Linked DNA regions of Homo sapiens. The protein of the gene in region 2 purifies or fractionates together with the protein of the main gene of each other region. This does not show direct contact. Each region holds a gene or a part of one and is shown on either strand. Other genes may lie near its edges. The genes, in order: CEP164 and CELA1.

What was found.
Region 1: the proteins of CELA1 (region 2) and CEP164 purify together in Homo sapiens (affinity purification with mass spectrometry; 2 studies listed by BioGRID and IntAct, with this or other methods). This does not show direct contact.

The regions. Positions count from the first base shown.
Region 1 is NC_000011.10:117,330,585-117,334,396, forward strand, and holds part of CEP164 (centrosomal protein of 164 kDa), read left to right. Parts: intron 1-3,812. UniProt on the Homo sapiens protein: Plays a role in microtubule organization and/or maintenance for the formation of primary cilia (PC), a microtubule-based structure that protrudes from the surface of epithelial cells. Plays a critical role in G2/M checkpoint and nuclear divisions.
Region 2 is NC_000012.12:51,343,741-51,348,129, forward strand, and holds the start of CELA1 (chymotrypsin-like elastase family member 1), read right to left. Parts: upstream 2,940-4,389; 5' UTR 2,899-2,939; coding exon 2,883-2,898; intron 2,138-2,882; coding exon 2,055-2,137; intron 114-2,054; coding exon 13-113; intron 1-12. UniProt on the Homo sapiens protein: Serine proteases that hydrolyze many proteins in addition to elastin.

The DNA.
Region 1 (3,812 bases), on a different chromosome or scaffold from region 2:
GCTGCAGTGAGCAGAGATCGTGCCATTGCACCCCAGCCTGGGTGACAAGAATGATACTCTGTCTCAAAAAAAAAGCAAAGAAAAAGTGATTACTTAATGTCTGAATGGCCTTAACTTATATTGCCTGGTGCTGGATATGTCCTTTGGAGCAAGGTAGAATAAACCCTTTTAAATAGGTGAATAGCAGTCATAATAATGTAATGTCTAACATTTATTGAGACCTTAGTATATTTTAAGCACTTTACATGTATTGAATCATATAAGCCTCACAACACATTGTGATGGATATTGTTAGTACTCTCATTTTATAGATGAGAAAACTGAGGCTGTCCAGCTAGTAAGAGGCAGAGCTGGGATTGAAAGCCAAGAATGTTCCAAAGCTTTTGCTCATTACCACTGCGTAATCAACTCTGACATCTTCCACCTTCTCCCCTTTACCTTCTCCAGTCAATCTTTTCTGTGGTCAACCTTCTTTGTAATTGTTGGAGCAGGGTGGAAGAAATAAATATACAGAGAACCCTCATTATGTCTGTGAGTGTATATTCTCTGTTAGTGTGCAGATGTGCAAAACTCTAGCTATGCTGACAAAGTACAGGGCAAGGTAGCCACAATATTGAAGGACTGGGAAACGATATGTACTGAATGGAAGAGAACTGGGAATACTTAGCCTACCTTAGCTAGAGAATCCTAGGGTGTCCCCAGATGAGCAGAAGGCAGACTTGAGATACCAGGGAACATTTTTTTAGAACCTGATTATTGGCTTACTATTAGACCTTCTAATAGTTAAGAATTATCTAACTATGGAATTGAAAATAGAATCTGTAATACTAGCTAAATTTGTGTAACTTTTCTGTATACAGGGACTGTGCTAGGCACTTTATAAGTGTTGTTTCATTTTACTTTCAGGCTTTTTGATTTTTGTTAAGATTGTTTTAATTATACACATGCAGTTATTGAGGCTGAGAGAGGTGAAGCACCTTGCCTAAGGTCATACAGCTGCTAAGTGAGAGAGCTGGGATTTGAATCCAGGTCTTCTGTCTCCAAAGCTGGTACTTTGACCACTATGCCGCCTGTCACTGGAAGCACAGAGAGGAAAATTTTGGCATGGGAAGGAAGGTGGACCAAAACTACTGCGGGTCTTCCTAGCTTCTGAGATTGCTGGTGTATTTTTTTTTTTTTTCAGATAGGGTCTCACTCTGTTGCCCAGGCTGGAGTATGGTGGTACAATCATAGCTCACTGCAGCCTCGAACTCCTGGTCTCAAGTGATCCTCCCACCTCTGCCTCCCCACTTTACACTCTTTATGTAACTCTGTCTTCCTTTCCATCTGATCACATAGCTCCTGCCTCAGCCTTCCGAGTAGCTGGGACCACAGGTGCACGCCACCATGCCTGGCTAATATATATATATATATATATATTTGTGGAGACAGGGTCTTACTATATTGCTCAGGCTGGTCTTGAGCTTCTAGGCTCAAGTGATCCTAGGCCTTGGTCCCCCATAGTATTGGGATTACCGGTGTGAGCCACAACACCCGGCCTATTCCTTGGTTTTATATTAGCAGTTACAGCAGTAACTGAGCTCCGACAGCTTACATAGGCTTATTTTAGGCTTTGTTGGAAAATTCCAGAGGAGGAGACATGGCCCTCAGAAGTTTGTGGTTTAACAGGAGAGGTAAGAAGACACATTTTCATAAAAAAAGTAATATTGGCCAGGCACGGTGGCTCACGCCTGTAATCCCAGCACTTTGGGAGGCCGAGGCGGGTGGATCACCTGAGGATAGGAGGTCGAGACCAGCCTGACCAACATGGAGAAACTGCATCTCCACTAAAAAAATACAGAATTAGCCAGGCGTGGTGGCACATACCTGTAATCCCAGCTACTCAGGAGGCTGAGGCAGGAGAATCGCTTGAACCCAGGAGGCGGAGGTTGCAGTGAGCCGAGATCGCACCATTGCACTCCAGCCTGGGCAACAAGAGCGAAACTCCTCTGTCTCAAAAAGAAAGAAAGAAAAAATAATAATATTGAGAGAAATCTGTCTGGGAACACATGAAAATTATGAGCTCAGTGCTAAGGTGGTTCTGGGTTGACAGGAGAGGATAAAATTGGCTGGGAAGGCTTCCTGGAGGAAACGTGTGAGCCACTCCTTTTTTGCCTGATTCTGAGATTGGTAGGAGATGCATGAGTGCAGTTGGGTGACCCCTCCTAACTCTGGCTCACAGAAGGTCTCAGGCTAGGCAGCAAGTAGATCTCACTGGATTTCATCTCATCTATTGGTAACTGCTACGTAGTGAACAATGTTGAGGGTTCTGAGGCCATGTCTAGGGTGCCATAATTGACTAGTGATGTCCTTCACAGTTTTAGGCCTGGAGGAAAATAGTAGGACATGTCCTATTTGTTTGCCATGGCAGATCTAAGGGCTGCATTCTCATTTATTGATTTATTTTAGAGACAGGTCTTGCCCTGTCACCCAGGCTGGAGTGCAGTGGTGTTATCATAGCTCACTGTAGCCTTGAACTCCTGGGCTCAAGGGATCCTCCCACCTGAGCCCCCCAAGTAGCTGGGACTACAGGTGTGTGTCACCATGCATGGCTGATATTTTTAATTTTTTGTAGAGACGGTCTCACTATGTTGACCCAGCTAGTCTCAAACTCCTGGCTTCAAGTGATCCTCCTGCTTTAGCCTCCCAAAGCCCTGTTATTACAGGTGTGAGCCACAGTGCTTGGCCCAAGGGCTGCATTCTTAGACTTCTCATCCTCTGTTACCACTCCAACTCAGGTTACCATTGCCTCTTACCTAGCCTAGCTCATGGTTTTCTACCTTATTTCTCTGCATCAGCCCTGATTTTCTTCTTTCCAATCTGGCCTCCGCTTTAGGGTGTACTCCTAGTAGCTTCTGGAGTAGTTTTTCAAAATGTGTATCTGGAAAAACTATTTCCTGGCTTCCATTCCTCTCTCTTTTTTGAGACAGGGTCTTGCTCTGTCACTGAGCCTGGAGTGTGGTGGCACAATCAAGGCTCACTGCAGCCTTGACCACCTGGGCTCAAGTGATCCTCCCGCCTCAGTCTCCCCTGTAGCTGGGACTACAGGTATACACCACCATACCTGGCTAATTTTTAATTTTTTTTGTACAGGGTAAGACAGGGTCGTCTTATGTTGCTCACGGTGGTCTTGAACTCCTGGGCTCAAGCGATCCTCCTGCTTTGGCCTCCCAAAGTGCTGAGATTGCAGGTGTGAGCCACTGTGCCCAGCCCTAGTTCTGTTATGATAAAGGGCAAGTCTGCATGGCCTGGCTCCCACTGGCCTCCCCAGCATCCTATCCAACTGTGCTGCTTCTTGCCTCGTGTTGCCTTCTGCTGAAGGACTTTTGCATGCATCTGTTAGAACACGCTTTCCTTTTTTTCTTTGTCTAGTGAATACCTACTCATCATTCAGTTCTCAGTGTAGGCATCATCTAAATCAGGCTTATTTCCTTCAGAGCACTTCCCTCGGTTCTAATTATACATTTCTCTGTGACTGATTGGTTTGTCTCCCTCCCTTCCCAGACGAGCTCAAGAGTAGCAGCAGCTGAATCTGTTTTTAATCACGATTGCATCTCTAGCGCCTAGAAATAAATGCACGTGGTAGGTGCCCAATAAATATTCCTCGAGTGAGTAGATGATCTTTAGTAGCCATCCTGCTACTACATACAGACAAATAGATATGACTTCTGTTCCCACGTTCCTTTTTTCTTTAACTCATTGGCCTTTTGGACCTGTCCTTGCCCACATCTTTTCTAGAGCCTGATAAGGTAAGGAAAGAAGGTAGAATACAA
Region 2 (4,389 bases):
TGTTTTTCTTACTAATCCACGCAGTGAGCAGCTGTCATCACCCAGTTCTGTCTGATAAGGGTCCCTCCACAGGTGTGATACCGGGAACCTCCAGACCGGTACTGGAGGGAAATCTAGATGGGGAGGAAAGAAAGAAGGGATAGGTTGGTGTTTCTCAAATGGTTTTGCCCCAGGTCGGTTGCAGTGGCTCATGCCAGTAATCCCAGAACTTTGGAAGGCTGAGGCAGGAGGATCAGTTGAGCCTAGGAGCTGGAGACCAGCCTGGGCAACATAGTGAGACCTCGCCTCTACAACGTCAAAAATAATTAAATATAAAAGACTTTGCCTCAAACTACATGTCACCTCCTTAAAGTCCTGCTGTCCTTCAAAACATTCTCTTTCTAGGCTAGAGATGGCAAATAGGTTTCATCTGACCTGCCAATTGCTACTGATTGCTTGGTAGTGGCCACCTGGAGTGTGGCATTGATAAGGGGTGTGTAGATGCTTCTGGGGCCAGCAGGAAGGGATGCTCCATCGCTTGGTGATGTTTGCTGTGTACATGGATGGAGGAGTAAAGGCACACAGTGTATTTGGCATTATCTCTCTAGGTTGTTGCAATGGACCTAGAACCCATTGTAACTCCTTTTTTGGAACTCCTTCTACCTCTGTTCTCCCTTAAAGAGGAACTATAGGCCAGGCACCATGGCTCACGCCTGTGATCCTAGCACATTGGGAGGCCAAGGCGGGTGGATCACCAGGTCAGGAGATCAAGACCATCCTGGCCAACATGGTGAAACCCCATCTCTACTAAAAATGCAAAAATTAGTCGGGCGTGGTGGCATGCACCTGTAGTCCCAGCTACTCAGGAGGCTGAGGCAGGAGAATTGCTTGAACCCAGGAGGTGGAGGTTACAGTGAGCTGAGATAGCGTCACTGCACTGCAGCCTGGTGACAGAGCGAGACTCCATCGCCCCCTCTCCTCCCCCAAAAAAGAGGAACTATAGGCAAAGATTTGCTCCATCACCTAAGCCCAACAGGCTTAGGTCTCCAGAGCTGTACCTTTAGTGTTTTCAAGACATCTCCTGTCTCCCCACTTCAGGGACTACTTAGAAATACCAATGGGAGGCCAGGCGCTGTGGCTCATGCCTGTAATCCCAGCACTTTGGGAGGCTGAGGCGGGTGGATCACCTGAGGTCAGGAGTTTGAGACCAGCCTGGCCAACATGGTGAAACCCCGTCTCTACTAAAAATACAAAAATTAGCTGGGCATGGTGACAGGCGCCTGTAATCCCAGCTACTCAGGAGGCTGACGCAGGAGAACTGCTTGAACCCAGGAGGCAGAGTTTGCAGTGAGCCGAGATCATGCCATTGCACTCTAGCCTGGGCAATGAGAGCAAAACTCCATCTCAAAAAAAAAAAAATACCAATAGGATGTTTGTTTTTATCAGTTCATGTCTCTTCTTCTAGCACCTCATGTTATGTAATAGCTCTACTCCTGAAAACTGGGGCTCAGACTTTTATAAGCTAAAACTCTGATTGCAGTGATATCTTCTCAAAGTGTGGATCTTCATCAGTTAATTTGCCAGGTTTACATATTTAGATCACTTAAATCAGGGCCCAGCTGCCCTGTTAGCAAAGTGGAAACTCTAAATAGCCAACTAAGCAGCATGCTGTACGTGTGTGTGTGTGTGTGTGCGCGCACATGCGTGCAAGCATTGTGACACACACAGTGTGGAGTGGTGTGCGTGTGAGTTTCAAGGTATGTGGAGTCCAAGGTGACTGTCTGGCACCCAGTCTTTCTTGCGTGGCACAAGTGCTGTCGCTGAGAATATAAATGTATCTTGTGTTTGGGTGTGTGCCTTGAAGAGGGACTGTGGTTGGTGTATAAATCCCCTCCTCCAAGCCTTTTGCATTTAGAAAACCACCTAAGCCTGATCCCATCCATCTTTAAAATCGAGAACCTAGACAATTGGAGAGCTGCTTGTTGATAGGGACATGCACAAATACACATGATACCTTATGTCATGCACTGAGCTCTTATTTGGGTGGAAGTCTGGGGCTGGGAAGGAACACCCACCTGAGAGGGCCAGGAATTCCTCCCGGCCTCAGTCCCTCCGACTACGCGGGCATTGGTTTCCGGAAGGTCCTGGGTGCTGTGTCCTTTGTGGGGCAGAAGAAAAGTGAGTGATGACTAAGCATGGGGTCAGCCAGGGGTAGGGGTGGGGGGTGGCGATTGTGCTTTGAGGAATGTTAGCCTTGTCTGCAAATTCACAGTTCCTCTCTAACGAATGAGGGGCCCAGCTGTGAGTTCTCTGAGCCCCTTTTGAAAACAGGGGTGCCTGGGTGCCTTCTGTTTCCCCCAGGTGTTCCCAGAACTCCGGCATGCTATGAAGGACCTCTCTCAAACCACCAGGCTAGGCCCCAGAGGCTCCTTGTGGTCTCCTCTTTGCTCAAGATCACCCTTTGGCCTGAAGAGACCCCCCCCCACTCTTTGACCCCCACCAGCCCCCTAATGCTTTGGCAAGATTCTCCAGGGTTCAGGGCCTGCAGTGCACACCCCAGCCAGGCACCTGCTGAGGAAGTCCTCCTGTCAATGGGGGTGGTGGGGAAGCCCAGGGACCCACCCCACTACCAGATGGGGCTTCTCTCTGCTTTGTGGCCCAGGGACCTGCCACCCAGAGGGGCCTGAATAGCCAGTGGCCCTGACCTTTTCTATCTTGGCCTCCAGGAGAGTAAAGGACGCTCTGCAGGCAGAGCGTCCCACCTGCCCTGGGACAGGGTGCTGGCCTGGACTTAGGGAAAATTTGCTGACCTTCCTGCCCAAGTCCCCCTCCCTATAGACCTCAGGCCACATGATCCACTTACCATAAAGGACCAGGGTTGCGACTGGACCATATCCACTTACCATAAAGGACCAGCATGTTGCCGATGGAGTAGACCACTGCCTTCTTGCTTGGACCAAGCCCTCTTTATACTCCTCTTAGCAGCAAAGCTGACTGTCTTCTTGCCAACTGGCAGGGCTGAGGGTGCAAGGCAGGGAAAATCACAAGTGACATGGAAATACAAATGAAAATATTTCTTTTCAAGTAAACTAATGTATCTGTTATTCAAAGACAGAACAAGGCCAGGGCTGAATTAATCATCTGCTTTTAATTGAAAAGCATCCAACAAACTCTTTTTCAGAAATAAGATGGAGAACCAGGGCTGGTTTTTCTCTAAGGGAGCACCCCTTGTCATCCATCACTCTCTCGTTGTCCTCAGTGGCACCATAAATGCAGAGACTTGCCCTGTGCACTAGCAGCTGGAGGCCAGGGGGATAGTGGAAGAGGGGGGAGTGGTTAGCAAGGGCAAGGAAGACACAGCAACTCTCTCTGCCCAAAGAGGGAGATGGCACATGCCCCCAGGATGCAGGCATAGGTGTAAATGCAGACACAAAAGCCAAATAGATGCAGTGGAGATAATTCTGGGGGAGGAAAGTACTGAGAAACAGGCTTGGGCCCTCTCAGATGGAGAGCCAAGAAGGGGCTCCCAGAGGAGAATATGAGGCAGGGTAGAGGAGGGGATCCTTGGGATGTGAAGACAGTCTGAGGGCTATGAGGGTAGATGGAGGGTGGAGGGCAGAGGGAGAACGAGGGTAGGAGCCGAGGTTCCTGCAGGAGATGAAAGGCTTTGTTCATCACAGTTCGTAGAGGAGAGAGAAGGGAGTTGCGGCCGGGCGCGGTGGTTTACGCCTGTAATCCCAGCACTTTGGGAGGCTGAGGCGGGCGGATCACAAGATCAAGAGATCGAGACCATCCTGGCCAACATGGCGAAACCCCGTCTACTAAAAATACAAAAATTGGCCGGGCGCGGTGGCTCATGCCTGTAATCCCAGCACTTTGGGAGTCGGAGGCGGGCGGATCACGAGGTCAGGAGATTGAGACTACTCTGGCTAACACAGTGAAACCCCGTCTCTACTAAAAAAATACAAAAAATTAGCTGGGCGTGGTGGCAGGCGCCTGTAGTCCCAGCTCCTCGGGAGGCGCAGGCAGGAGAATGGCGTGAGCCCGGGAGGCGGAGCTTGCAGTGAGCCGAGATCGCGCCACTGCACTCCAACCTGGGCGACAGAGCGAGACTCCATCTAAAAAAAAACAAAAACAAAATACAAAAATTAGCTGGGCATGGTGGTGCGCTTCTGCAGTCCCAGCTAATCTGGAGGCTGAGGCAGGAGAATCGCTTCAACCTGGGAAGCGGAGGTTGCTGCACTCCAGCCTGGAGACAGAGCAAGACTCTGTCTCAAAATAAATAAATAAATAAATAAATAAATAAATAAATAAATAAATAAATAGAGAGAGAAAAGAGTTGCAATGTGCCTTGAGGTGGGCAGAGGACCCTTGGGTTGGCCACAAAATGATCAGAGCCACTGCAGGCTC